2 linked regions of the Homo sapiens genome follow. The protein of the gene in region 1 interacts with the protein of each later gene in a biochemical or structural test. Each region holds a gene or a part of one and is shown in the gene's direction. Other genes may lie near its edges.

Region 1 (3,812 bases):
CAAGCCCCAGCCCCGGCCCGGCCATACCAGGGCGTCCGTGTGAAGGAGCCAGTGAAGGAACTGCTGAGGAGGAAGCGAGGCCACGCCAGCAGTGGGGCAGCACCTGCACCTACGGCGGTGAGAGTTTGTGTGTGTGAGAGTGTGAGTGTGTGTGTGTGAAAGAGAATGTGTGTGTCAGGGATAGTGTGAGAGTGTATGTGTGTGTGAGTATGTGTATGCGTGTGTGTATGTGTTTGTGTGTGATAGAGTGTGTGAGAGTGTGATAGTGTGAGAGAGAATGTGTATCTGCGTCAGTGTGTGAGAGTGTATGTGTGTGTGAGGGAGTGTGAGTGTGTGAGTGTATGCATGTGAGTGTGTATGTGTTTGTGTGTGATGGCGTGTGTGAGTGTGTGATAGTGTGAGAGAGAATGTGTATGTGTCAGTGTGTGAGAATGTATGTGTGTGAGAGAGTGTGTGTGTGTGAGAGTGAGTGTGAGAGTGTGAGCGTGTGTGTGAGAGAGTATGTGTGTGAGGGAGTGTGTGTGAGAGAGTGTGTGAGTGTGTGAGAGTGTGAGTGTGAGAGTGTGAGAGTGTGTGAGAGAGTACGTGTGTGAGAGAGTGTGTGTGTTTGTGTGAGAATGTGTGTGCGCGCAGGCAGATGGCTTGGGAGGTGACCAAAAGGATCAGGCAGGAAGGAGCGCAGGTCCCTTGGTGGAGGCTGCCAGGGATAGAGCTAGGGTGGAGCAACTGGGATGAGGGATCAGGGCCGGCTCAGCTGGCCCACCGAACACAGCTACTGTCAAGGCCTGAGTGAGCGAATGACTTGCATACCCTGGTGTGAGTTGGGGGCCCCCCCTGAGAAGAAGAAGACACCAGCTCCCTGAGCGCACAGACTTCCTGCTAAATAGAAACGCAAATCTCTCAAGTGTAGGTGGTGATGGTTGGGATACGGGGTGGGATGTTTTGTTCTAACCAGAGAGATTCCTATCTTCTATTCTCCTGCCCTGAGGCCCTCTGGGCAAGTTCTCTGCACAGGGCCGGTTGACGAGGGCTAAACATTGACCCTGGTCTTCTCCTCTCCCCTCTAGGTGGTGCTGCCCCATCAGCCCCTGGCGACCTACACCACAGTGGGTAAGAGTGCCCCGTAGCCCTGGTGGCCCCCAGGCCTCTCATCTGGGTGGCATCTGAAGTTCTGTAATTTCCTTCTTCCCACAGGTCCTTCCTGCCTGGACATGGAAGGTTCTGTGTCTGCAGTGACAGAGGAGGCTGCCCTGTGTGCCGGCTGGCTCTCCCAGCCCACCCCGGCCACCCTGCAGCCCCTGGCCCCATGGACACCTTACACCGAGTATGTGCCCCATGAAGCTGTCAGCTGCCCCTACTCAGCTGACATGTATGTGCAGCCCGTGTGCCCCAGCTACACGGTGGTGGGGCCCTCCTCAGTGTTGACCTATGCCTCTCCGCCACTCATCACCAATGTCACGGTATGTCACACAAAGGCAGGACTGCACCCGCCCATGCTGAGTGCACCCTTTTATAACCAGAGCTGACTTCTCGATCCTGATCTTCCTTGCTATTGATTCTCAAGATAATCAGGTCATCAGAGCTCGCCTTGGTCTCCATGGAGGCCTGCTCTGATTCTCATTTCCTGAGATAACTTCCACAAAGATGTCTCGCAGCCTCTCTCGTCATACTTTCTGCTCCTCAGGACTGGGGAGGTCTTCTCTGATTCCCTGTTCTAAATCTCCCCAGCTTCCCTGCAAGCAGTGAGTCTTGGTTCTGAGTTGAAGTTTTTAGTGAATGTGGCACCAGGCGAGATCTACATGGGGTCTTGTGTTGGAACTAGCCTTTCATTTCTATTCAGATAACTTAGGGAGTGATTGTTCACTTAATAATGGGGTTTAACAGAAGATTTCTAGGCTGAACAACAGGTGATATTTTTGATGGTGTCAGACCCACGTGTGGGGTAATTTTTTAAAGTTCTGTCTCTACTGTCAGATTGCCTTGTTCAAATCCCTGTCCCTTCACTTACTAGCTATGTGACTCTGGGTTTAGTGACTTAAAACTCTCTGAGCCTCAGTGTCCTCATCTGTAAAATGGGAATACCAAGAAAAGGGTCGTTGTCAGGATCAAATGAAATAATGAGTGTGGAGGGCTTAGCACAGTGTCTGGCATACAGAAACCACTAATATATGTTAGTTATCATCATATCAAAATCTGCTAACATTAACCAAGGGCTTGATGGGAAAGGAAGAGCCTCTTCCCCCGGGAATGAAGGAAGGAAGGGAAATAGATTTATGTTAATGATTCCTGTTCGACTAAAGGACTGGGAATTTTGCAAGTATTCAAGGGCAAAAAGACCTGTGGTTACAGCTGTATCCAGCTCCAGTCCAGGGAAACCGTGGGAAGTAGAGCTGGGCCTTGAGCAGTCCCAGAGCCCACCTTCGATGGTGGTGCTTGCTTTGGTCCACCTTGTCTCTTCCATTTCCCTCCAGGGTCCAGTGTCATCCTGATGCACCTGCCCCTGCCTCCAAGCACCTTCTATGAAAGGCCTGCAGAAGCCCTTCCCTCCCAGGTCCACCTGCCTACCCAGCAAACCAATTTTGGAGCCTGGATGATGATAGATAAGAAGGAGTTAATCCAACACCTCTCCCAGGCAACTCATTTCCATGTCAGAGGCCTGGGGTGAGGGTGGTGGGTGGAGGACTCACGGCTCCCACCCATTTCATTACCAAGGATTCCTTTCATTATTTATCCCCTTTCATCATTCCCACCTTCTGCTTTGAAAGGTTCTGTATATCAAACAAACAGTATTCATTAAGAATTGATTTATTTGTTTTGCCATTTTGTAAATTAAGTCATCAAAGCTGGCTAGAGCTGTAAGTCCACACTCCTGATCAGCAGAGATAAGACCTGCTGTGTGCTGAGTGGAAGTAATTGTATTCCCGAGCAAAGAAACCTATAGTTACAGGTTTATGACTGGGAAATGTAGAATTTCCATCTGGATTTTTGAAAAGCTGGGAATCATGAGGCTTTCCCGGATTCTGTCTGGTTTCAGGACACTGGGATGGGGACCACTGGCTTAAGTCAAAGGAGAGGAAGTGATTATGCTGTGGTGGGGTGTACACCTCAGCCCGGATTTCAGGAGGCTGGAAGGCCTCTGAGACCATTTCCAGCTCTATCATTCTGTGCAAAAACACCCTAAAGCCTTGCTACTCAAACTCTTGTCCCTGGACTGGCCACATTGGAGTCCCCCTGAGATCTGATTAGACATGCAAAATCCCAGGCCCCACTCTAGACTTCCTGTGCCAGAAGCTGCGTTCTAACAAGATCCCCAGGAGGTTGAGAAAAGCCCTGCCCTAAATGATTCTAACAGTTTGCTGTCAAGACACAGTGACAGTAGGAGGGATATATGACAGGGGAGACAGGGATGGTAGGGGGAGATTTTGGCCTCCCTCTCATGAATCCATGCAGAGAGCATCCTCTTCTATCTGCTTTCCTCAAGTGTGAAAGAAAAGTAAGAATCCAGGTCCCGCCCCTGTTGCAGGCCTGATCTGAGGTTTGTGAGGGCAGTCGCCGTGCAGGTGAGAGGTATGACTCGCAGAGCATTCAGGAGAAGGACTCTAACACTTGGAGGGTCATGGGGGGTGCCCATAAGTGGGATGGCCATGGAGATCAGCTCAGAGACAGAGGACGATGAGGATGTGGAAGGCACCAGGCAGCAGCAGGAAGGAAGGCCAAGTTTGCTGACAAAGCAGTGCTTCCCCCATCTGGGGATGGCCAGGCCTCCCCATGCTGGCCACCACTAGAGGGGTGGGAGGTGATGGAGCTGTGTT
Region 2 (3,812 bases), on another chromosome or scaffold:
TCAACAAAATCTGTATGAAATCCCCAGAACCTTCCATCCCCCCGCCAAAAAAGGAAATTTTCCTTTTTACAATAAGTATCCTTAATAGTATTCTTCAAAATAGCAGGATGTCTAATGCACTTTAAATGATTTAGTTCCCATGGCTATAGTTACTAGAATATCTGCTGCATAAGGGCAAGAATTGTGTTTTTAATATATATCCTCAGTACCTAGTGCTCAGTAGGTATTTGTTTACTCACCTACTACTGTGCGTATTCTAATGACATTCAGATCTTTATTTTTATTTTTATTTTTTTTTGAGATAGTCTTGCTATGTTGCCCAGGCTGGAGTGCAGTGGTGATGTCATAGCTTATTGTGGCCTCCAACTGGGCTCAAAGGTTCCCCCCACCTTAGCCTCATAAGTGGCTGGGACTAGGAGCATGTGCCATCACACTGGGCTAATTTTTTAAAAAGTTATTTTGTAGAGACCAGGTCAGGTCTCGCCATCTTGCCTAGGCTGGTCACAAACTCCTGGGCTCAAGTAATCCGCCCACCTCGGACTCCCAAAGTGCTGAGATTACAGGTGTGAGCTGCTGTGCCTGGCCTCCAATCTTTTTGCCTGCTGAGATGTAGACCCATATATCCCCTTATGCAGATTTTTTTAATTGACTTTATTTTTTAGAGCAGCATTAGGTTCATAGCAACTTGAGTAGAAGAGACAAGAGATTTCGCGTGTAGCCCCTGCCCCTACACGTGTAACCTCCTCCATTATCAACATTCCCCGCCAAAGTGGTACGTTTGTTACAATTGAGGAACCTACATTGACACACCATTATTACCCAAAGATTATAGTGGCGTACATTTTATGGGTTTAGACAAATACATAATGACATACATGAATGCTTTCACCACCCTAGAAATCCTCTGACTTCCACCTATTTGTCCCCACACCCCCAACCACTTATCTTCTTTCTTTTATTGTCACCATAGTTTTGCCTTTTCCAGAATGTCATATGTGTAACTGGGCTTTTAAAATATGTAGCCTTTTCACATTGGCTTCTTTCACTTAGTAATATGCATTTAGGTTTCCTCCACGTCTTTATGGCTTGGTAATTCATTTCTTTAGGGCTGCATAATAATCTGTTGTCTAGATGTACCACAGTTGGTTTATCCATTCACCTACTGAAGGATGTCTTGGTTGGCTTCGAAGTCTTGGCAATTCTGAATAAAGCTGCTGTAAACGTCCATTTGCAGGTTTTTGTGTGGCCATGAGTTTGTAACTCCTTTGGGTAAATGCCAAGGAATGTGATTGCTGGATCAGATAGTAAGAGTTTAGTTGTTTTGCTGCTGTTTTTTTGAGACAGTCTCACTCTGTGCCCTGGGGTGGAGTACAGTGGCACAATCTCAGCTCACTGCAACTTCCACCTCCTGGGTTCAAGTGATTCTCGTGCCTCAGTCTCCTGAGTAGCTGGGATTACAGGCGCCTGCCATGACGCCCAGCTAATTTTTGGATTTTTAGTAGAGGCAGGGTTTCAACATGTCGGCCAGGCTGGTCTTGATCTCCTGACCTCAGGTGATCTGCCTGTCTTAGCCTCCCAAAGTGAAGAGTATCTTTAGTTTTGTAAGAAATTGCCAAACTGTCTTCCAGATTGGCTGTACCATTTTGCATTCCTACAAGCAATGAATGAGCGTTCCTGTTGCTCTGTATCCTCGGCCGGATTTGGAGCTACCACTGTTCTGGATTTTAGCCGTTCTTTTTTTTTTTTTTTTTGAGACGGAGTCTCACTCTGTCGCCCAGGCTGGAGTGCAATGGCGTGATCTCGGCTCATTGCAACCTCCACATCCCAGGTTCAAGTGATTTCTCCTGCCTCAGCCTCCTGAGTAGCTGGGATTAGAGGCATACACCACCACGCCCGGCTAATTTTTCTTTTTACTTTTAGTAGAGACGGGGTTTTGCCATGCTGGCCAGGTCAGTCTCGAACTCCTGACCTCAAGTGATTCGCCCACCTCGGCCTCCCAAAGTGGTGGGATTACAGGCGTGGGCCACTGCGCCTGGCCTGTAGTGGTATCTTACTGTTTTAAATTTGCATTTCCGTGATGACATGTGATGTGGAGCATCATTTCATATGCTAGTTGTTATCTGTATATCTCTTTGGTGGGGAGTTAGTTAAGGTCTTTTTGACTCTTTTTTTTAGGTTGGGTTGTTTTGTTATTGGTGAGTTTTTGTTTTTTTTTTGTTTGTTTTTTTGGAGACAGAGTCTTACTCTTGTCCAGACTGGAGTGCGGTGGCGCCAACTCAGCTAACTGCAACCTCCGCCTCCCAGGCTCAAGCAGTTGTTCTCGTGCTCAGCCTGCTGAGTAGCTCCTGAGTAGCTGAGATTAGAGGAACGAGCCCACCGTGCTCGGCTAATTTTTGTATATTTAGTAGAGACGGGGTTTCGCCATGTTGGCCAGCCTGGTGAACTCCTGGCCTCAAGTGATCTGCCTGCCTCAGCCTCCCAAAGTGCTGGGATTACAGGCGTGAGCCACCGTGTTCGGCCAGGTTTGCATATTTTGGATAACAGTTCTTTTTTAGATACGTCTTTTGCAGATATTTTTTCTGTTCTCTATCTCAAAGCTGGCATTGCCTCTCTTCTTCACATTTACATTCATTTCCTTCTACCTTTAAGAGATCTCCTTTTGGTCTCCAGCCTTACAGTCAGTTTTCCTACTGCAGTTTAAGTGAGCTTTCTAATAGGTGAACCTGACTTAAAAGGCTTTCAGTGTAAAGTTCTAAGTTCTTGATATGGTTCGTAAGTACATAGCCTCTCCTGAGCTGGCCTCTCTTGTTACTCCCCTGCCATTTTGGACTTTACTTGCAAGCCCCTCTCATCCTATTAAGCTCTCTTATCTCAGCCTGGACATCACTAGCTGAGAAGCTCTTTGTGAACTCTGCACATTGAATTGGATGTCATCTCTGTGTTCCCATAGCACTCTGCTCGGTCCCACTGTAACATATCCTCCTGAATTATAATTTTTCTTTAGTTGTATGCCTCCCCAGATAGACTGTAATCTCTATGACGACTTGGTCATCCTTGTGTCTCAAGAGTTTAGGACTCTTTCTGGAACATAGGTGGTGCTCAGTAAAAAGTTATTGAGCGACTGACTCCACACTGTCCTTATTAAACTCTTCTAGCCTTTTCGTTGTGTTTTGTTTTTACCAAGGCATAGTGTTTCTTACAAACTTCTCTAGCCTTATTGCCTGTGTTTCCCCTTTGCCCTACCTAGGCCAACTGGGTTCTTTTGTTCCTTGAACACTGCTTTAGCATCTCTGTGCCTTTGGTCATGATTGTATTTAGCCTCTGAAATGTCTATTTGTGCTACTTTGGGTAGATTACTGAACCTCTCTAAGCCTTAGTTCTATTAGTACATGAACAGTTATTAAGTATATTGCTGTTCCCTGCCTTCCCCTCGCCCCCCCAGCCCCCATGTCCTAATGCTAGAGTGTCAGTATAATTAAGTGGCTAAGAGGACAAGCCCTTAAGAGTCAGATCTGGATGTGTCTCTTGGCTCTATCACTTATTAGTTGTGTTTGTGACTTTAAGTTCCATGAGAGCAGAGACACTGCCTACTTTGCATCTAAAAGCACATTGCCTAACACAGCAAGTGTTGTAAAAAGATTAGTTGTTGAGTAAGTTACTTCTCTAAATATTACCACTTACCTTCTAGTGAGGAAAGAAAGAAACAGAATTACAAATTGTGAAGTGTACTGTAAAGGAGTCAAAGTGCTGAAGAGACCAGTGGGGTGGAAGGGAGACCTGGTGTCCAAGGATAAGGAGCTCGCCCTTTGAAG

Evidence for each region.
Region 2: the proteins of POU2AF1 (region 1) and SIAH1 form a complex in vitro, tested with the Homo sapiens proteins (2 studies listed by BioGRID).

What each region holds. Positions count from the first base shown.
Region 1 is NC_000011.10:111,355,093-111,358,904, reverse strand, and holds part of POU2AF1 (POU domain class 2-associating factor 1), read left to right. Parts: coding exon 1-117; intron 118-1,067; coding exon 1,068-1,110; intron 1,111-1,194; coding exon 1,195-1,460; intron 1,461-2,471; coding exon of another isoform or gene 2,472-2,489; exon of another isoform or gene 2,490-3,812. UniProt on the Homo sapiens protein: Transcriptional coactivator that specifically associates with either POU2F1/OCT1 or POU2F2/OCT2. It boosts the POU2F1/OCT1 mediated promoter activity and to a lesser extent, that of POU2F2/OCT2. It recognizes the POU domains of POU2F1/OCT1 and POU2F2/OCT2.
Region 2 is NC_000016.10:48,378,868-48,382,679, reverse strand, and holds part of SIAH1 (E3 ubiquitin-protein ligase SIAH1), read left to right. Parts: intron 1-3,812. UniProt on the Homo sapiens protein: E3 ubiquitin-protein ligase that mediates ubiquitination and subsequent proteasomal degradation of target proteins.